Linked DNA regions of Homo sapiens: region 2 is linked to region 1. Evidence: fine-mapped expression QTL. A gene starts in region 1. The other region holds a variant in brackets. All regions are shown on one strand. Distances are from middle to middle. Region 1 holds the start of STIMATE-MUSTN1 (STIMATE-MUSTN1 readthrough). Region 2 holds the start of MUSTN1 (musculoskeletal, embryonic nuclear protein 1).

Region 1 (10,595 bases):
ATGTGTAGGAGGAGGTTCTTCTAGAAACGAAAGTGACTGAAAACGTAACCAGACACAACGTGTGGACCTTGATTGGATCTTAGCTTTTAAAAACTCCAGCTATAAAAGACTTGTGACATTTGGGGAAATGTGACTATGGACTGGATATGAGATGATATCATGGAGTTATTATTAATTCTCTTAAGTATGATGATGAAATTGTGGTTATGTGGGAGATTGTCCTTATTTTGGGGAGACTTAGCTGAAGTATTTAGCAGTAAAGTGTGATGCTGGTCACAATTTACCTTCAAATGGCTCAGCCAAAAAAAAAAAAGCATAAAGAGGTAAAGCAAATGTGACAAAATGTGAACAACTGCTAAATCTAGGTAGAGGGCAGACAGATGTTCAGTGTATTATTTTTCATGTTTTCTACGTTTGACATTTTTAGAGATAAAAACCAGGATGGGGTGGGGAGAGGTGATCGTAGGGAAGGTTGTGCCAACACAAGCCTGTTCACACAGAGCACACAGGGAGGCCGGTTTACCACGGAGAAAACCCCAGAAACTCTCATTTAAGATATCAAAGCTGAGTGGACTGGTTTGTGATTTTTACTTTGGATTGCAGGAAAAAAGTTATCACTTCTCAATGTTAGCAGTGTTTTTGTAAAACATGGACACATTTCTCCCAGCTGGCTAGGCCCCATGTCTATAACAAAAATAGGCAGGCAGATTTATCCAAGCTCTCAAAATGCTTGTTTTATTAAAAACCAATTCTGTCTACACTTCAGCCCAGAACCCTGACTGTGCACGGTGAGGGAGGCTTGAGTTTGCTTTGCATTCACATGTCCTGAGAGCAAACACCCCCAAATGCCAACACACACACTGGCCAACACGACCTTTGGCTGACAGCTGGTTGGCTACCCTGCACTGGAACAGTTTGCTGAGCTCTAGGACTGCTTAGCTCTGTTCTGCTGAGACCCTAGCTGAGCAACTTTGTCAAGTCACAGACTATAGACAAAACCACCAAAACGAGGAATTGCTTAAAACCACCAAAACGAGGAATTGCTTGGCAAAGCCCCCTCGTTTAAAGCGTTTCTTTCTATGCAGATACCTAGCAGACACTTCAGAAAACTCTAAGTGGAAAGTATCTTCATAAGCTTGTCTCTGAGTATGTTCATCTTTCCTTGCGTACACAGGGTACCTTAGCTGGAGCCTCTAGGAAGCCCGCCAACTCAACAAGGCAGTGCTGACACTGGGACATGTGTGTGGGTGGTGCCTGTAACAGTCTGCATGTTTATGCAGCTTGAATAATGGGCTACCATGTATGACCTGGCATATACATTCTCAACTGCCTGGACCAAGAGGGTCTATAAACCCTACATAGTAAGGCAAGAAGTCTATCAAAGCACCAGAATGAGAAATTCTTGCAGAACCAGAATCCTCCCCAGAGACATTAATATATATAAGTAATCTTCCTTCAGGACAAACCTCTCCAGATTAAAAACAAAGAAACAAACAAACAAAAACAAGGCAACGTGTAAGTGGAGAAAAAAGTGATTTTTCTGGATAGAAAAAGGAACATAAAGACAGTGGTCTGAGGGGTCACTGAAATCAGGGAGGTGAAGTAAGGAAAACTACCTCACAGCTTGTCTGCAGAGAAATGGGTTCATTCTACAGTCAGAGCTGGTCCAACAGGAAACAATAGTGTTGGCCATCAGGACTGGGGAAGCGTTCCAGAAGACAGGCAGTGAGCCCATTGCCTCGAGGGCCACGGGTACTCAGAAGGGAAAAGACTGTGATCTCAAAAACAGCCCCTCAAAGGACAACGGCTGTTTAAACTGCTCAGAACAGACTGGTTGGTATTTAAAATGTTTGAAGATAACAGAACTGAGGAAGGATGGAGTGGCCTCACCTTAACACACACTAAGACTTCCCTCCCTCAGGGCTGCGAGGGGGACCCTCGTCAGGGGAGCCTGGCCTTCAACAGATGCCCCTCCTGGCAGCTCCGCCAGACTGAGAAGGACGGAGGACTAATAGCCCAGGACAAAGCCAAATGGCTCGCAGATGTACTTCCTTAAGGCTACCTTGATCTCGTTCCTCTTCCACCTTAGAGATTTCTTCCTCTTCCCAGTAGTTCAAGAAGGAAAAGCCTCGCAGTTCTATTTCAACAGGACCAAGAAATCTGAGAGATAAGAAGGGCCCCACCCTGACTGCATCCCAGTCAGTGGGCTTCTTCTTGTCCAGCTCCCAGAGTACCATTGCCCTGGCCTGCTCTGTCTGCTTCTAGGTAGGGGGAGGAGGCTCTTGCTCTCACCTCCATTTCTGTGTCAGGGCAGACATAGCTCTAGCCTTTCCAGCTCTTCTCCCCATCACTCCTACCCACATCACCCCAGGACCCACCAGCCATTTCCACAAGCTCCGTCCACGTCAAGCCTCACAGTGAACAAGAGACTGCTTTCTAGTTCAATCTCTGCACACAGAAAGTACCAACCACAGTGGGATTTGCACATGTGCTCACGCTGAAGATTAAGTAAAGAAGTGAATATGTCCCTGAAGACTCCACTCAGAACACATTCAACCCGATACACTTCTCAGCTGTGAGCAACTCTGCCCTGTCATCATCACATTTCCTTCTCTGAATCACAAGTGTCAAACCCTAGGGGACAAGCCGGGCCATCAGCATCAATCAAACCTATGGAAACAGCCAGAGCTAGGCTAAGAAACCTCAGGTTAGGGAGCAAAAGAAAAATTTAACCTACACTTCCTTCAGAGAGAAAGGAAGGCTGTCTGGAGGACAGAGAAGTAGGAGGGGTATGAAGATCCACTCACCATGTCTTGAAAACACACACGTACAGTACATGCGCCCAAGTCAGCAGCGGATTTTGGCTAAGTTGTCACAAATTATTACTGTGGGAACAAGTGGGTATTTGTTTAGCAGAGAAAAAGCAAGGCAAGTTGGGACTAAAAAGGAAAGAAAAAGTGGCAAACATAGACAGTTGGGCACTTATAAGACTTATCAAGGACAGGCCACCAGAAGAACGCGGTATCCATGATCAGAGCCTCTTCAGGGTTACTTAAAGCCTGAGAGAATTCACTCAAAGAAACCCCAAGTTATAAACAAGCAAGGTGGCCACTCCAGCAACTGGACCCCACAAGACAAAGGCACACAGCTGCAAGATCCCTCCTGAGTACCCCAAAGCATACTTTCTGCAGGAACTCTCCACTCTGTCCACACAAGCACAGTGGGGAAGTTTTGAGAACAAGTCATTTTTGGAATTAATGACTCTGCACAGATAGTTATAACCTTTCCTTCCCCCTAAAACGCAGTCACAAGGGCACTCCTAGGCTTACATGTCGAGCAAAACTTCTTGTTACTTTAATAAGGGAAGGATGCACACGATGAAAAACAGAAGCCCCCCCCCACCCCCCATCAGCACACATGAGAACAGGGTGGGGGCTTCCTTCTCTATTCAGCCACTAAGGTGCCCAAGTTTAATGGAAAAGGAAACTTAAAATATAAAGAATAAAAGTGGAAAGGGAACAGCCAGGGGAAGCTATAGATGCGGCTTATTAGGAAAGCTTGGGACAGAGATGGAACAGGTGGGCCTGTTCCGGAAGAAACGAGAGGAAGGGGATCTGGGGAAGAAGGCAGACTGGGTGGGTCCTACCCTGACAAAAGGGAAACTAAAGCTGAGGAAGAAGGGCCACGGAGAGGGAGGCGGGTACTGGGAAACGGAAGGCATGGCCCTAACACTCCAGGTGTTGAGAGGGATGCAAAGTAGCAGGATTTAAATGTGAACGGAGAAGGCAGATCCTTGAAGAGTGAAGGGGCAGAAAAGAGCTCAGCATCGCACTGGGGATTGAGGGATGTGGGTTCTAAGCACGAAGAGCCCCTGAGAAGGGGCGGACAAGGGGATGTCACCCTTGGGGGTCATGATTCCAGGCTGGGAAGTGGGGTAACAATTCGAGATGGTAAGGTGGGAGGTAGGCGAGTTTTAGACTGGCGTCTCAAAAGACAGACGTTTAAGGTGGAAAGGGGAAGGGTCACTCCTGTCTGGAGGCCACAGCGAGTAGGTGAGGGGCTCGGGCTACCCCTAGTGCAGGAATACCCAGCCTGGGTTTGCGGGGGAGGAGCAATTCGGGTCCCAAGGCCTGAACTCTCCGCGCAGGAGGGGCCCCCAGGGGGGCCGGGCCGCGGCTGCCGCGCAGGGCCTCCGGAGGGTCGGGGGGTCCCAGACTCACGCATTAACGTGCTGAAGGCCACGACGCCGAGCAGCCCCTGCAGGAAGATGCCGAAGCTGTGCATGAGCGCGCCGCTCTCGCAGCGGCCCGCCCCGGACGCGACTGTGGAGGGCGGCCCGCCTGGCAGTCCCCGGCTCGCGTTCCCGGCGGGGCCCTGCATGACAGGCCTCGCGGGAGGGGCGCGAGGGCCCAGGGCCCGCCCGGCCTCGCTGCCTGCCGGCGCAGCGCCGCCAAACCCGCAGCCGGGATCCCAAGCCTGAGCCGGTACCTCCGCCCGGCCGCCGACTCCGCGCCGCGCGTAACCCGACGTCTGAGATCGCAGTGCCTGATTGGCGCAGCCAAGGTTGGGGCGGGCCTCGGCCGCGGCAGCTCTCCCCACCCGCCCCCGAGGGGCGGGGCTCCGGCCGGGCCACGGGGCGGGGTCGCGGGTCCCGCTCCCCTCTCCAACCCCGCCACGCCCGCAGGTAGACAGGCCAGGTGAGCCGGCCACCGCAGACCGGAATGAGAGCCTGGGAATCACGAGCTCCAGGTCCGGAGGTAGGAGCTGGGACGGCCTGTGGTCAAATTATTTTTCCCTCTAAGGAAAATCCCTATATCCTGGAGAAATTATCATCATTCCTGAATTCCACCCTCAGAGATCGTGATTCAGTAGTTCTGGGGTGGGTCCCAATAGTTTGCAGCCTGGATTATTCTGAAGCAAGTGAATAAGGAAAACAATCTGAGACTGAGTACAGGAGTCTTCCCTCCAACCCAGACATTTGAGTCTTTTTCCTACTTCCCTAGCTAAAGGCTTATCAAGGCCCCAAGTCTATTTTCTTTTTTCATAGACATAATTTAAATGGTCACCTGAATCCAATCACTTTCATTTGGAAATATACCAGGTTTCACACTGAAAACCTGACGTGCACATGTCCCACCTTATTCACTTGGGGAGCACAACTACCTTTAGAGTGTAAAAGACAAATGGTTGGTATTTTCCAGGCTCCAACATCCCCCTGCACACACACACTCCCATCTAACCCTTTCCAACTTCTCAGAACCTGTGCTCTGCCTTTAACAAGACCCTGAGTCCCCATTCTCTCACCCATTCTCCCAGCCCAATCTGGGCTCTCTCTGGATACCTTCTTGTTGGTGCTCTAGAGCCGCTGACCTTCCTGCTGCAGAATGTCAGTGAACACATGGTGTAAGTCCAGTTGACACTCACCCATTCTCCCAGCCCAATCTGGGCTCTCTCTGGATACCTTCTTGTTGGTGCTCTAGAGCCGCTGACCTTCCTGCTGCAGAATGTCAGTGAACACATGGTGTAAGTCCAGTTGACACTCACCCATTCTCCCAGCCCAATCTGGGCTCTCTCTGGATACCTTCTTGTTGGTGCTCTAGAGCCGCTGACCTTCCTGCTGCAGAATGTCAGTGAACATATGGTGTAAGTCCAGTTGATACTGAGCTACGTGTTTTCAACGGTAAATATCATCTCTAGGAAAAAGTTTCCTATTAAATAGCCCCCCAAATTCCAATTACCTAAGAGGGTTATATGCTAGCTAAAAGCTTTCTTGGTGAACAGGAATATTAACCTGATTAGAGAATAAAAATGCAATTCTCCAGCCTTCTCTTACATTTTCACACCTCTGTGCCTTTATGTAGCATTCTAGCTGCATGGATGCCATTCCCTTTTCCCTGCTCCATGAACTGCTCCTCATGTGTCAAAGCCTTTCTGACCTCCCTCTCCCTCTTGCTCCCACATTACCTAGTGTGTACTGTTCCACCAAAACTTTTCAGACTGCTAAATTTGACAGCTGTACACATGTCTCTCTCCCACAGCTAAGTGTGAGCCTCCTGAGGGCAGGAATTATTTTTATTTACCCTTCAATTCAAATTCAGTATGGTGCCTGGTACAGAGAACATGCGACAAAATGCTTAATTTAAATGGAATTTTAATTTATAAAATTTTAAACTCTCCACAAGTACTGGCCGTGGGCAAATACAGAAAATCAGATTAAAAAAATAAATGGATAAGGGAAAATTAAAATTGCATGACTGTCTTTTAGTCTAAGAGGGATCTTATGAGGATGCTCAACAGTTAACAGTACATGTTTAGAGAGAACCAAACAAGAGGCTACGTCTTAAAGCAGAATAGATTGTGGTTGGGCATAAGGAGACTATTGATTGCTTGAAGACACAGACAGCTCAAGGAAAATTGGACATAGAGCTGAAAAGTGATGTTTTTGACAAAGAATTGTTCTGCACATCCAGCTGTGGAGGAATCCTTAAGGCTCACAGAGGAACAAACAAGAAGCAGTCTTCAGAGATCAGGGGCGGAATCCCCAATGTCAGGAGCAAGGTTGCTGTGGGGAAATTCTACTCTTCCTATCTTTCCTGAACTGGAATTAAAAAGCACCTAAATCCAGAAGGTAAAGGATGAGACAGCAAGAGAGGGGGAAGAATTCCGGAGTTTTATTAAAGTAGGAAGGAACTTCTCATCTATTTGGAAATGATTCTCTGAGGTCCCGCTGGAAAGAGTTTTAAAAAATTTACTCTGGCCAAAATGCCTTCCTTGTTGTCAAATCAGCACAAAGTTAAGGTTAAACATAGCTTAAGACCTGTTCTCTTTAGTTTTCTCACAACCACTTAAAACTGTCATAACGTACCACCAGTTTATATACAATCATATTTACAAAAAAAACACGCAAAATATTAATCCAAAATAGTTTTTTTTAATCCTTTGAAGTTATACCATCAAACTTGATGGTAGTTATTTTAATAGGTATTCTTGTGCATACTTCTTAAGTGTACTTTTATCTTTAATGCATAACTTTTGAAATTAAGAGGAAAAACAGCAAGCAGGAAGGATACAATGCAATAAGCATTTGATTTTGTTCTAAATGAGCAGCTTTAAAAAAAAAAGGTAAAATACATTAAACAAAGTGCATCAGTTCCAACAAGTTAGTATTAAAAAGAGGCCTAAGGACAGTGCTGGAACCAGCCAGGAGTCCCTCCCTGGCAGGCCTCTGATTGTCTTCAGAGAATATTCAATGAAAAAAAAAAAAAAAAAAAAAAGGAAGAAAGGAAGGGAGGGGAAAAGAAATGAGCACTTGAAATCTCAAGGGAAACATTCAAACTACCGTCTCCAGAGATTCTTGCAAAAGGAGCTAATGGACTGCCCAACTTTAACTCTGCCTAAGCTTTGTAACCTCCCTCAATCATCTGCTTTGTGACTTGATTTGCCCTAAAAGCCTACCCTCATCCTTTCAGCACTTTTGTCCACCTCCATTCTGCCAAGCTAGGTATGCAGTTAGATTGAATAAACCATGTAGAAACCCTCAGGCCTGAGTTTCCACACATCCTGAGAACAGGCACCCCCATCAGCAAATGGTGGCACCATTTCACTAGAAGGCACCATTTGCCTCCAGAAATAATGGGAGACCCTTGCCTCCCACAGATCAGGGTCCGTGCTTTTCTGCTGGTGTTGGAGACTTATCTGGCAAGGCTGTGGCTTGCTTCTCTCTTAAAACAGTCCTTTGTGATAGGCCATAGCACCAGGACAGACCCAATGGTGTATTAAGTCAAAAAAGACTCAAGAAGAGGGAGTTTTAGGCCTACTTCTCTATCTCCCCAACTCTCCACTCCTGGTTTTGCTGGTTCTTGTGAAAATCTCAGGCTTCTTAAACACCATACCCAAGAAAATGACTCTGCAGTGCATTTGCTGCCCACCACCTTCTACACCTCCCCATAAAGCTGCCCTCAGAAACAAGGCTACCTGTGTGGTCTGGGACAAGTACTGAAAAAACACCCCTGAAACCACCCTTGGAGTGGGCCTGGAACCAGATCCAGTTCGACTGAGCATTGAATTTAAAACTTATGCCCAAACTCTAAGTCATAGGTAGCTTGTTTGGATAAATTCAAGTTTCCAAAGTATGCACATTCTCACATAAGGGGTGGGAGTCATCAAAACTCACTAGTAAAACATCTAAAGTGAACAAAGTCAAGGAAGAATTATAATCGCAGGAAAGTAACATTTCTTTTTGGTTTTGCAGGAGGCTCTCTGTCCTACGATTTCTGAGTCAGCACCATGACAAACATATGGTTGCTTACAGTGGACCCAGGAGCAAGGAAATCCAAGCTTGCAAAGGGGGCATCTGGTCCCCACCAAGATTTGTACTTCATTTTTTGTAGTGATGCCTTCTACTCATTTAACTTCATAAGACCAACAGATTTCCTACTGATAACACAGAACACTTCTGAACTGGTGTGTGCACACACGGCACATCCTCAATATACAGGATCAGAGTTCAAATCCAGGGTGTGTTCCACTGTTGATCAATTAAACCAGTAAATGGTGTCTCAAATAGAACAATCTTTGGTGATATAGGTGCCAAGTAAATATAATTGCCTGTGATAGTTTTCCCAAATGTTCCCATCTAGATTGCCTGATATTCTATGTGTCCCTCAGAAACACTTTTTGGCTTGAGAGAGGGAAATGATTCTGAGTCCCACCCTACCTAAGGCCTCCTAAAGCTTTTAAATTGTATTCAGGTACCACATTCGTGACTGAATTGGTACTAGAGAGCAAGTAAAGTGTATCCAGGTCCTCTGGAAGCTAAGGTCCAATGTCTTCTCTCTCACAGTGAGAATATTTTACTTCCAGGAGAAAAGGCATATTAAGGCTAAGTTCTGAACTAGTTTTCTATGTTTGCTTCTACCATAAGTCAATAAATATTTATCAAGAAGCTCATCTTTTCCAGAGGTTAGTAAGTACCCTTCCCTGACCTCACATATCTATAACATAGATAAATGCTAGGAGCCACCTGCATTGCTGAACAAAGGCAGATAGCGTGCAAGCTTCCATAAATGCATTCCCTGCATTAGCCACTTCAACTCTGCTTCAAATGAGAAGGATGAAGATGGTGTACAAAGGAAAACAGCATAGTCCCCAGAAGCCCTCAAAATCTAGTCAAAATGTCACAGAAAAATCTGCATGTGCAGCAAAAAGGTTTCCCTAGCACACTAATTGAGCAGTAGTAGTCTAATATTGGTCAGCCAGCTTTTCAAGGTCCAGGAGGATGAAGTAGTCCATTAACCTGTTTTCTAAACTTGTCAATTCAGGGTAAAAAATGGGTCATGAAAAATTTTCTGACCTCAGGCAGGCTGTGGGCCCAGCTGCAGGTGAAATCCAGACAAATGCAGTCCCTTCACAATGTGACTGTTACACATTTAAGAAGTTGGTCTCTCTAAAAAACAAAGTTCTTGCACCTGTGTGCAACATACCAACATTTTACCCCAACATGGTGAGCTATTATCTGGCTTGAAATCTGTTTCAGCATCACAGTAACCAGAACATCATTGTTATCTAGCCCAGTCCCAGCAGCTTTGTGAGGTAAATTAAGTCCAAACTTTAAGTTAAAAAAGTGCCCTGTGCTAAATTCCCAATTATCCTTGCTTACATAATATACGGGAGTCGGCGCTGGGGGATATAATTCTTTATGCAATTGCCTAATAAACTATGCCTTAATAGGAGAATGCAAGAAATATTAAGGGAAACTCAACTTACTTGACCATTTAGAGTCAGCCTTTCTCTAGGAACGGGCTGAGCCTGAATAATCATGGTATAAACAAGCCTGTTGGGCTCTGACTCTACCTAGATCAGAGACTACGTAGGGCTGTATGTTTTGCCCTTCAGCGCCTTCATCCCCTCACCTGTGAAGGGAGATGATTCTTAATTCTGTGGTTTCTGGAGAAGTCAAAAGAGAGACAAAATAAAGCATTCATTGTTCTTGTGTTTGGTAAATTCCCTCTTATAGGAAATATATTTCACTTTCCTAAATAAGATAATAACACGAGGCCCTAAACATTAATTCCAGAAATTCTGTTCCATTATTCTTCCTCAAGGGGCCCTCTTTTCCTTAGTACCTTGACTGAACTCTCAGGAAATTTCATTAAGCAAGATTACCACCACTACCCACCAAAAGCTTAATGTTTAATGCTAATTATTCCCTAGCATTCCCTATATATCCTTGTCTTCCACAGACACAGATTTAAATTTTTAAAAACTGGATCTCTAAGTTTCAAACATACTAATTTTTACTTAAATGAAGCTTCTTCCCAGATAGATCTGGTAGGAACCTAAGTGAAGAGTTAATGATTTAATGTATGATTTAGTTGCAGGGCTTGAGTTAAGTTGGTTTATGAATTACCCAATGAAGAGAGGCTCCAGATTATTCATCAATGTCCACAAAAATAGGTTGGGGTGGTGGGGAATGGGAAAAAAAAATCACAATCAGTTAAAATTTGCTGTAATATTTCCTTATATTTGTAGAGCTGTTTAGAATTCACCCAGTTTGCAGGATTAAAACATTTTCAAATCTTGAGGAAGAATGATTG
Region 2 (10,595 bases), 62 kb before region 1:
CCCAGGGGAGCGCTGCCCAAAGGCCTGGGGTGGGTCCCGGCCTTGCTAAAGTTGAAGCGCTCTGCTCCTTGTAAAGTGGGATCGAGTGAGTACATATTATGCGCTCTGGGCACCGCTGGGGCTCGTGTTCCCTGGTGGCTCTGGGGAAGCCAGCTCCTGAGTCTGTGGCCACAGATGGGTAAAGATGAGTCATAAAAGTGTGGCCAGATGCCAAGTCCTGGATCAGGGAAGGACGGCGGCTCCGTGACACCAGCCCTGAGGGGGCCAGCTGCCTTGGGAACCTATCGGGGGCCTTGGGGCAGCCAGTGGCTTCCAGAGGCTGGGGAGGGTTTCTCCACCAGTCCTGTCTCCATTAGAGGTGGCGGCAGGCCTGGGGCAAAGGTGCCATAGACTGGAGCTATTTCTACAGCTGCAAGGAAGACGTTCCCCTTCCTTAGCATGACTGGCCAGAAGCCTCATCTCTGCGCACGTCTCCACTGCTCACCCTTTTGGCTCTGGATACGATTGGGATTACACAGGGGAACACGCTCCTTTCAGTGTCTGGGGGAAGAGTCTCCCCATGGAGTCCAGCAAGTAGGACTGGGCCCTTCCTCACAGCAGGGCTGCTCCCTTGGGGCAGAGAGCACAGGCCCAGCCCGGACTCAGGGCTATATAAGGTGGCCAGGCTGGCCGGGACTGTGGGAAACGTTCTGGGCAGCCAGAACCTCCTGGGACAGGAAGGCATCCCCAGCAGGCATCAGCCCCGAGCCAGGCACCACAAGCCCAGGCTCTGCCAGTCCAGCTCCGAAAAGAGCCACTGTCAGCCTGTCCATGGTCATGGTCTTGCCATCACAACGGGACAGGCCTCTATGGGTCTTTTGAACCTGGCACTTCCAGGCACACAGGGGACAGAGGACTGGAGAGAGAAGGGTCATGCAGGCTGAGAATCTGGTGTTCCATGCCCCAGACAGCATGGTTGGAGCAGAATGTGGGAGTCTTACCCCTGCTGTTTGGAAGAGACGGTAGCTCAGGAAACTGACTGCCAGAGAGGAATCTCAATCTGGCTCTGACTTGGAGGGGACAAAAGCCGGGAGGAGGCAGTGTGAACAAAAGTGTAGGGAGGGAGAGGGGTTTTGAGGTCCCTAGTGCAGTGCAGGGAGAGGGGTTTTGAGGTCCCTAGTGCAGTGCAGGGAGAGGGGTTTTGAGGTCCCTAGTGCAGTGCAGGGAGAGGGGTTTTTGAGGTCCCTAGGTGCTGCAGAGCCTGCAGGTCCTCAGAGGCTTCTCAGCAGCTTCTGTGGAAGGCAGGAGGAGAGGTGGTCCCTGAGACCCCACCCACTTCACTCTGAGCAGTGTCATCATGGCCTGCTTTATGGAATAGACTCCAGCTCAACTCCCCTGTAGTATAAAAGGGGAAACTGAGGCTCAGAAAAGTCTGAAGTCACAGGTCAGCACTGAGTCTCCATGTCCAAGGCAGCATGTGGCAGTGCCCATAATAGCACCTGTGCTATCCCCTGGGATCCTCTTAAACGGACATGTTCCATGTTCCCACCCTGTCCTCCCTCTCAATAGTGGCCATAGCCAGGGACCAACCAACACCTTCTGATTGCTGGGGCCACGTGGGCATCCTCTTTATTGGTGCTTCCAAGGTGCTGGTGCAGAGCCCTTGGCTGAAGGGCCTGGACTGTGGGGGAGGGTGGCAGCCCCAGAGACAGCAGGGGAGAGGAAGCGTTCTGGCATAAAAAAGAGTTCCTGGGAAAGGCTCCTGTTTCCGAGCATTCGGGCAGCAAGGGGAGTGGCGCACACTTCTCAGCCGAAGACACTCTTGGTGGGTCCGGCTTTGGGCTTCTCAAAGACAGTCTCGGTACCTGTGCGGGTGCGGCTGAACACCGACGGGGCGGCCGAGCCAGCTTGCTCTGTGGGAGGAGGTAAAGTCAGGGGCCAGCCTAGCTTCCTGGGAGGGAAGATCCCTTACGATGGGAGCACCTTTCTTGAACCCAGGAATACTGGATTCTCAGAAAAGGATCCTTGACCACCTCCCCCCACCACTGACACACACCTGCACCCCCATCCCCAGCCCCAGATGGCATGAGGACACTCACCACACTCTCGCATGACCTGGTAGGTCTTGGACTTGATTTCCTGGTTCTTGGTCAGGTTTCCTCGGGCCCCCTTCAGGTCCTCGTCCTTCACAGGGGGGCGCTTCTTCTTGATAGGGGCTTCCTGAGCACCAGCCTTGGAGATCCAAGAGCCTCATCTTACTACCTGAAGCCTCGGTAGAAAGGCACACCTACCTCTGTGCCTTGGCCAAGACCCCTCTTCTCTGCTCATTAAACCCAAGCCTATTCAAGGCTCTACTCCTCTTCCAGAGAAAGCCTTCCCAACTATACTCCACCTGCTGCAGGTCTCCCAGCTGTCTTGGTCTGACTTGCCCATGTGCCTTTCCCCTATAGCCTGGGAGCTCTTGGGAGCAGTGGCTGCTGCAGCCTCACACTGGCGTGTCTGGCTACCTGGTCAAGCTCAGGACTGGGCACAGTGGGGAACAGCGAAGGGGACTAGCTCTGAGGTTGGGCAATACTAGGGAATTTGGTTAGTTCCAAAACCTGTTCACTGGGTGGCAAGCGGTTCCTCAAGGATTGCCCCCTTCCAGAAAAGCGCCACTATTTACTTTGTGTCTTTGGGGCTGGAAATGGGGTAGAAGGGCCAGATGCCCACAGAATTACAGTCCAAAATGGCCACCCACCCACAGAGCAGGCAGCAAGGACAGTCCTCTCTCTTGGCAGGCTGGTCTGTCCCTCCAGGGTGGGGGACACCCAGGCTCGGTGTTTACCCTACCCCTCAACCCCAGGCGCCTGTGAGTCTGAGACCTGCCTGTGCTTGGGTGCAGGTGCAGGTATTTCCTCGCTCAGCCTGGGCCAGGCTCCTCAGAGCAACACACTATACCCCTGTACAGCGATGCATCCAGCTGTGTCCCTCCAGCCTCATGTGCACACACATACAGCTTCATGCATATACCATACACAGAGACAGACAGACCTATGTGTGTGGCCACACACAGAGTGCATGGCTGCCGGGCCCATAGCTACAAATGCACAAAGCTCTACACACTGAGCTATATCGGCAGCACACACACAGATGCGCACACACACACACACACACACAGGCACATGCAAAGATCTATCTAGGCCCCCCCCACCCCCAACATTTCTCTCCACTCCTCCTAACAAACCGTGGAATACCACCAAAGCCACATAGAAGAGGGGTTCTTCAGGGGGTCCTCCCTGAGCCCCCATCTCCCAAGGGCTGCAGAGCCTCCAGTTCATGCTTGGGGCTCAGATCAAGACACAGCTGCCAGAGCCGAAAGTGTCCAGGACTCCACCTCCACTCCCTCTGGCATCAACACAGCCCTTGCTGGGTCCTCCTACCTGGGACATGGTGGGTATTGTGTAAGCGCTGGGTCTCTGAAGGCGCCTCTCTGGCAGGCAGCAGCTGCTGGAAAAGATCTGAGTGGAGCCCAGCCTTCTGAAACTTATATAGCCTGCTTGCTTGTCCCGCAGAGTCACTGCCCCTCCTCTGACAGGCTCCCTGATGATTCAGGTCCGCAGGGTCGCTGGCTTCAGAGTTTATTCTCGGAGATGAGAGGGGCTCCCAGTACTGCTGCCTGGGGGCTGCAGCCCTGATGAAAGCAGATGGCTGCAGAGACCCTTTGCCCTCTGGGACAGCTGCTTGATTCGCCGGGGGGAGGTGCTGGCACTGACGGACATGCTTTGTGTTTACGGATTTGGGTCCTGGAATGTGTGACCATCTGAATTGTTCCTCTGCAAGGGTTCATCCCAGTGTGTGGGGTGGGTGTGGGGTGTCCCTGAGGGAATGGAGGGCCCTAGCTGGGTTGGACTGCTCCAAGCTTGTTTTTCTTCCTCTTCCATCCCTTCCCCTGGATTCCAGTGGACAGATTTTCCATCCCTGCATGGTGGCAGAGCAGGAGCTTCCCGTGTCTGCTGCGTCTGATTATGGCAAGCTCACTGGGCCCTTGCAGCAAACTCAGAGAGGGGCTACCACAGGTTCACAGGTGGAGAAAGTGAGGTAAAGGGAGCCTGGGGAGTTGCTCATGTTTTTGCTGATGTCCTTGTCCTCTATCCTATTCCAACTGCAAGTTCAGAGAGGGGGGAGTAAGGGGTCTGGAAAGGACCAGGGAGGAAACCATGCTCGATGGTGACAGCACTGATGAGACAGAGGTGTGAAACAGGCTCAGGCTCAGGCCTGAGCCTACTCACCTCCGAGTAGGTGAGGCCACCGCAG[G/C]GGGGCTGGCCTGCAGGACAGTTTCAGTTGCTCAAAGAGGGTGGGGGAGAGTGAAGCCCACTCCAGATACTGAGCTGCAGAGACAAGAACAGGCCCAAGGGCTCCCCGGAAGGTCACTTAGCTCTCCTTTGCTAGAAGCTCCTAACACACCCCTCCTTGCAAGGGGAAGATCCCCCAGGGCACAGGCCAGGAGCCTACGCCTGGGGTGGGTATGGGGAATAGGTGTGCATAGGTCGCAGCCCTCCCAGTAACACACATATCTAAGTCCTTTTCAGTTTATGATGGAGATTATTTTTATCCTCGAAGGCTCCAGGCAGATGGAACTCAACCAGGCACTGACATTTGGTTATCCCAAATGCCACTCCATTGCTGTCATACTTTGAACCCCACCCCAATCCCCCTCCTGACACCCTGGCTCCAGGAGGCCAATGAGAGGACTGCCAGGCTTGATCTGAGACAAGTGCTGACATGAGGAATGCCCAGGATGTGGCACATGGGCCAAGAGGCAGCTGAGGGCAGGCCAGGCCTTGTGGGGGCCTTCCACTAGTTCCAGGGGTGCCCCTGCAGATGGCACCTGATGCTGCGGCTCTGCCCAGGGACCTCCTTCCAGCCCCGCAGCCTCAGGGACAAGGATGTGGGCTACTCACTGCTTATACTCTACCTCCCCAACACGATGTCCTCCTCAGAGACGGACTTGCTTTAATTCTCACTAGCGAAGAAGTGGAGATGGACATGGCAAGAGCATGTTTGGCTTTTCACTGGGCAGTTGCTGGCTCCCACTCCTGCCATGAGGCTTCGTAAGGTTCCTTCTCACTCTGGTCCCTGGGGAGAACCTTCTAATTCACAGGGGAATCTTTTTTGACCCTGCCAAGCTGTTTCAACTCCAGAGAACCCACAACCACAACCACAAATGTGATGGTTTCTTTTTAAAAAAAACTGTAATAAGATGCCAAACTTTATTGTAAACCATTTTACAATGTAAGTACATCATCTTCTCTTTCATTTCAAAAAAACGTTTCCATGAATCCTACCACCACCGATTAAGCACCCCCACTGGATGGCTGCTGAAGTGGGCCATGGTTTTCCTTGCATAGGTCTGACTTCTAACAAACTTCAGGAAAAGAAAAATCAAATTTAAAACAACCCAACCAACCAACCACCAACCAACCCAGGAGCTCAAGGTGCTTGTGGCAAGTCAGACCATAAGTCCCTTACCAAAAGCCAAGCCCCTCAGAGCTGCTAATGTTTCACGAAGTAAAACAGAGAGCTCTGCACTCTTAGCTGCAAGCGTGTGAAACTTCTAAAAGCCAGCCCCACATTCTACAAGGCAGCTGCTCTGGCCAGTGGGAAGCTCCTTGCACTGCCTATCTTAGCCTGGCTGCGAAAAGGCCAGTGAACTGCAAGGGCAGAGTGAGCTGCCAGCTGGGCGCTGCTCCCTCCAGGGTTCTGAGGCAGCCTTTGGACATAAACTTGGGGCTGCACCCTACAGGCTTACACTGTCTAAGGGAAGTCACAGCTTGGATTTGAGCCTTTTAATATTTTCCCTGAAGAAAGAGGCATGACAGGTGACATTAACCCATGACTCCCTGTTGCCAGGGAGGGCACAAGTTAAAGCTTGAGGAAGGAGGCCACCAGCACGGCTGAGGGGCCACAGACCCTCCTCTTGCATGTGTGCAAGCTGAGTGGACCAAGAAGCCACCACCACCTGGATCTCACTAACATCCCCCCTTGCCATTGTCAACAACCCTCTGACAGCAAAAGGAAGTAACAGTACCAACCACCTCTTCCATTTGGATATGACAGTTCTACCTCATTAGTTTATTTCCAATAGTTACAAGAAATTTGTTCATGACCTTGACTTGCAAGGTTCCACCACAGGTGGCTTGGCTGAGGTCCAGATTTGGACAAATCAGATTCATAGCACACAATATCCAGCCAACGTCCCACCATTTCTCAACACGGTGATGGATGCCATGTGGCCAGGTGAAGAGCTGCACCTCGTAAGGCACCTTGGAGCAGGTGGAGAGGAAACTCATCCCAGGGAGGGAGGGCAGCTCGGGAGGAAGTCCTGACCACAGCCCTCTGATCTGCTCTCATGGGATGGTGCACCACGGAAGAGCCCCCAGTGACTGCAGGAGGCACTCCTGGGGATACAGATTTGTGTGTGTACATGTGTGTGCACGTGCACGTGCACACACACACACAAACACACAAGAAAGGGAAGGCCAAACACGAGAGGTGTCCTATGGTCAGACACCCTATTAGACCCCCGTCCCCTGGTCAGCCAGCCAGCTACTAGCCACAGCTCAGAGACTAAAGCCCTTTCTGAAAATCAGGATACAGGGAAAAACCACCACTCTTCAGCTACCTCTTTGTTCCCCAAACCCTCTGCTCACTGGGAAGTGGGCAAAGCCTTCAGATGAGACCATCTGAGATCTATATAACCCAGGGTTTGTTTCACAGCTTTCATAGATTATGGCTCTCCTATCCCCTGCCCTGTCTGGAAACATTAGGAGCTCAAGACTGAACATGAAGCTCCAATTGTGAGCTCCAGGAAGGTGGAAGAAACAGCTGCAGGCACAGGTTGTTCAAACCAAAATGAAACAGGAGGGGAGGAATTAGAACTGAGTCAGTGATGCCATGAGGGAATGACCGTCCTGTCAGGAACATGAGTCTTGGTCTTCCTAAATTCGACTGAGAATGGCCTGGTTCTAGCCACTCTTCCCCACTAGAGAGCTGCTGGGGAAATACTGGCTACCATAGCTGTGGATGGGAGGGAGCACAAAGTCAATCCGAGCAGGAATGACACCAGCAAAGTTGCCTCCTACTGTAGTTACAGTCCCTGCTCCTCTCAGCACCCTGGCTCTGCACTCCTGGTGGAAGATGGGCTGAGAAGGCCTGCCTGATGCTCGCCTTCAAGTCCAGGACAGGTAGGGCTCTGAGAGGCAGAGGGCAGTCCCAGGGTACCTGGTTTAACAGCTGGGTTCATGCGCCCAATTCGGACCCAATGTGCTTAAGTGAAACACGTGCTCATGCAGGTCTAAAAGGAAGGTCCTAAGTGGAGTGGCCTCCTCTGCACTTGTCTCACTTGAAGTCCAGGATGTCTCCCTTCTAGCTCATCACACCTTAGCAGTGTGGCTTCCTGTTCCTAACCATCCGTGGCTGCCTCTGAGCTTGACAAACCACCAAGCAGTGCCCCTACCTTGCTGTTTCCACAGCAGGGAAACGGCTGGGGTCAGCCCATTCCACAGTCACTCAGCAAACTCCCAAAACCACAGGGGCCTGTGGCCATGCTGAGGAGTAGTGACCATTCCCCAGGGAGGGGACACGGCCTAGAAGCACCTTGCCCTGCCTGTGGTTTAGAGAGTGAGCTCTCTCACCCCTGCCTCCCTTAGCCACCTCAGCTTTGGAGGGTGAGAAAAACAGGATCACTTTGTGAGGCACATGTTCTCCAGAATGCTGTGCAAAACAAATAGGTGACACTAGGATGACAGGTACCAGGGCAGCAGGAGAGGAGGCTCCTGGCGCTGAGTCCAGAGGCTGGCTCTGAAGGCTGCAGCAGTGGGGGCTGGGAGGCCAAGACCACTTTAAACCGTGATTGGAGGCTCTGCAGACAGGCAGACTGCACAGGAGTCTGGTAGTCTTGGGTCCTCTGGAAACAAAGACCTCTTAGCTAAGCTCCTTTCTTGGTCAAATTTAACTAAGATCTCTAATCTGCCAGCAGGAATGCTAGAGCTCATGGGCCCTGGGCAGAGCCTTTCCTGTTCCACACTCTGCAGCTCCTGGATCTGCATCCAGACCAGCTGCTCCAAGCTTGGGTCTGACCTTCACAGAACCATTGGGTTTGCTGATTCTAGAGAAGGGCCATCCTCCTTCCCTCCCCATCATTTGTCTCATCTTATCATAGGGCATCATCTAATAATATTCCAAATAAAAAACTCCCGATTTTTCCTCCTGCCAGCCCACACCCCATGAAAGGCAAATAAACCCATTTCTTTGGGGACTAAAAAGAGTTTTTAAATACAATAGTATGAAAATATAACTTAAAAATATAAAAGTCAAACAGCATACGGAAGACTTAAAAATCTCTGTTTTGCCCATTAGTCCCGTAAGTACTTTGTAGGAAATAAACACATACCCCCAACCTGGTAACACTGTCACAACTCATAAAACCAGCTTCAGAAATCAATAGTTACAAAAGCCATTTTGAGTAAGAAAGCATTCCGGTTCCAACTTGGTCAACGAGTCACTTTTAGCCCGAGGGTGTTATGTGTTCGCACTGCCCACAGCCACGGTGAGGAGACCCACCCACGGTCTGTGTGCCTGTGCTTCCTTCCACCTTGCCACTCGGTGGTCGGACACGGGGCAGGGCCTCAGGTCCCTCACAACACTGTCTGGGACGACAACAAACAAACACAGCTCCTTCCTTGCATATTTGGTCAGTGTTTGTAGTGCAACTGAATGGGGACCTCCAGCCGCCAGTGGCCCCCTCGGGCGCTGGCTCCTCTTCCCTCTTTTTAAGTCACAGTAGTCTGGGGGCAGGCGAGAGCGGGCAGAGACAGCAAGAGGAGCAGAGGTAGAAAGGAAGGGCAGAGAGAGGGTAAGGAACGATGCTGCGGGATGACCTCTGCACACCAGCGGCTGGCGGGGCCCTCCCGTCACCCCCAGCATGGGAATGTGTCATACGGGTAGCCCAAAGCGGTGCTTCTTTTTCTTCACAGGCTTGAGGGGGGTCAGTCTGCGGAGGTCCTCCTCCACGTCGGACTCCTCCATCTCATCATCCGCTGAGATCAGGATCTGAGGCAGTAGAGAGGCAGGGCCTGAGTCACCCCCAGCAGGGCCTTCTTCATTTGCCCTCCCTGGACCCTGGGCCCTTCAAGTCTCATGTTTTTTTTTTTTTTTTTTGGACAGAGTCTCACCCTGTCACCCAGGCTAGAGTGCAATGGCACGATCTCGCCTCACTGCAACCTCTGCCTCCTGGGTTCGAGTGATTCTCCTGCCTCAGTCTCCTGAGTAGCTGATTACAGGTGCGTGGCACCATGCCTGGTTCGTTGTTTTTTTTTGCTACTTTTAGTAGACATGAGGTTTCACCATGTTGGCCAGGCTTGTCTCAAACTGCTGACCTCAAGTAATCCACCTGCTTCGGACTCCCAAAGTGCTGGGATTACAGGCGTGAGCCACCATGCCTTGCCAAGTCTTAATGTTTCTTTACAAGAGAGTGAGGGGAAGCTCCCTGTACTCAATGAGACGTGCTAGCCTCCACAGGCCATGTTCACTCCAAGGACACTCATGGGCTACTGAAGCCAGCACTGAGTCGACAGACCCCCTTCCTCTGCTAATGCTCCCCACTTCTCAGTCCACCTCCAGGGGAACCGACCTCCATCAGGACAAACTCAGCAGGGATCTGCAGCCTAAGGTCACCCTGGCTAAAAAAAGCTCAACCATGACACATGCAGTTGTTGAAGCTGCCTTAAATACTGCAGAGGCAGACTGAAAAGCCCCTTTCAAAAGGAAGAGAAAGCATCTGTGGGCAGGGGGAGTTCAGCGTGGCTGCTCTGAGCCAACTCTGTAACTGCTGAAGACAAACAGCGGCACTTTGCTGTTCTAAGGCCCTGGAATGACTCAGCCATGCAGCTGGGGCAAACACACTCATCCGCTGCCCGCCTGCCTGGCTCCTTAGACCTCTGAATACCAGGGAAAGGTTGGAACCACCTAGGTTGGGATCAGGAGGTCCAAAGCCCACCTATGCAGGGAAACACGAACTCCTATTCTAGGGCAGGGCAGGCAGTCTCACCTCCTCTTCCCTGCACTGTTCCCTTGCGGGGCTTCCTGCCTCTAGTCTCGGTCCCGACCACCACACTCCCACTGCTCCTCACCGCCTGTACGAGCACATCCCAATGCCTCAGCCTGGATCACAGGGCATTGCCGATCTAGCTCAGCCTGTGCCTCACTTCTTGTCCTTCTGTCCTATGCTCCAGAATACAAGCCACAGTGCATTTCACACTATGGCCCAGACACCAAACCATGTGACTGTGAATGCTCATGAGCTGCTGCTTCTGCCCATAACACTGTTTGCCACTCACCTAATGTTCACCAAGCTCTCATATGACAGGTGCTGGCCAGATTCTAGAGACAAGCACCTAGAGAAGACACGGCTTCCCCTCTGTCCTACTATCTATTCGTCTTCTGAAACTCCCTCCAGGCTGTCCCAGGGCCCTCGTTGGGTTCTGCCTATGCCTCAATCTTAGAACATATTACGGTGTCATGACGAAATACTTATGTGTCCACCTGCACCTCACCCACGTGTCTGACAGCCTCTC

Evidence for each region. PIP is the estimated chance that this variant, and not a neighbour inherited with it, causes the effect.
Region 2: its variant is fine-mapped to the expression of STIMATE-MUSTN1 in aorta (GTEx, PIP 0.91).

Annotation. Positions count from the first base shown.
Region 1 is chr3:52,893,071-52,903,665 of GRCh38, forward strand. It overlaps STIMATE-MUSTN1 (STIMATE-MUSTN1 readthrough), which reads right to left and starts at 4,478. Exons shown (of 10, transcript NM_001198974.3): 1 at 4,221-4,478. The coding sequence starts at 4,380. STIMATE (STIM activating enhancer) reads right to left here and starts at 4,478. Exons shown (of 8, transcript NM_198563.5): 1 at 4,221-4,478. The coding sequence starts at 4,380. It overlaps SFMBT1 (Scm like with four mbt domains 1), which reads right to left. Exons shown (of 21, transcript NM_016329.4): 21 at 10,502-10,595. RefSeq lists a silencer at 4,031-4,740.
Region 2 is chr3:52,831,539-52,842,133 of GRCh38, forward strand. STIMATE-MUSTN1 (STIMATE-MUSTN1 readthrough) reads right to left here. Exons shown (of 10, transcript NM_001198974.3): 8 at 8,962-9,072; 9 at 2,079-2,211; 10 at 1,583-1,892. The coding sequence ends at 1,786. It overlaps MUSTN1 (musculoskeletal, embryonic nuclear protein 1), which reads right to left and starts at 3,481. Exons shown (of 3, transcript NM_205853.4): 1 at 3,402-3,481; 2 at 2,079-2,211; 3 at 1,583-1,892. The coding sequence starts at 3,410. The coding sequence ends at 1,786. It overlaps STIMATE (STIM activating enhancer), which reads right to left. Exons shown (of 8, transcript NM_198563.5): 8 at 5,195-9,072. The coding sequence ends at 8,956. RefSeq lists enhancers at 5,912-6,081, 8,265-8,766. The variant G/C (reference allele first, on the strand shown) is at 4,276.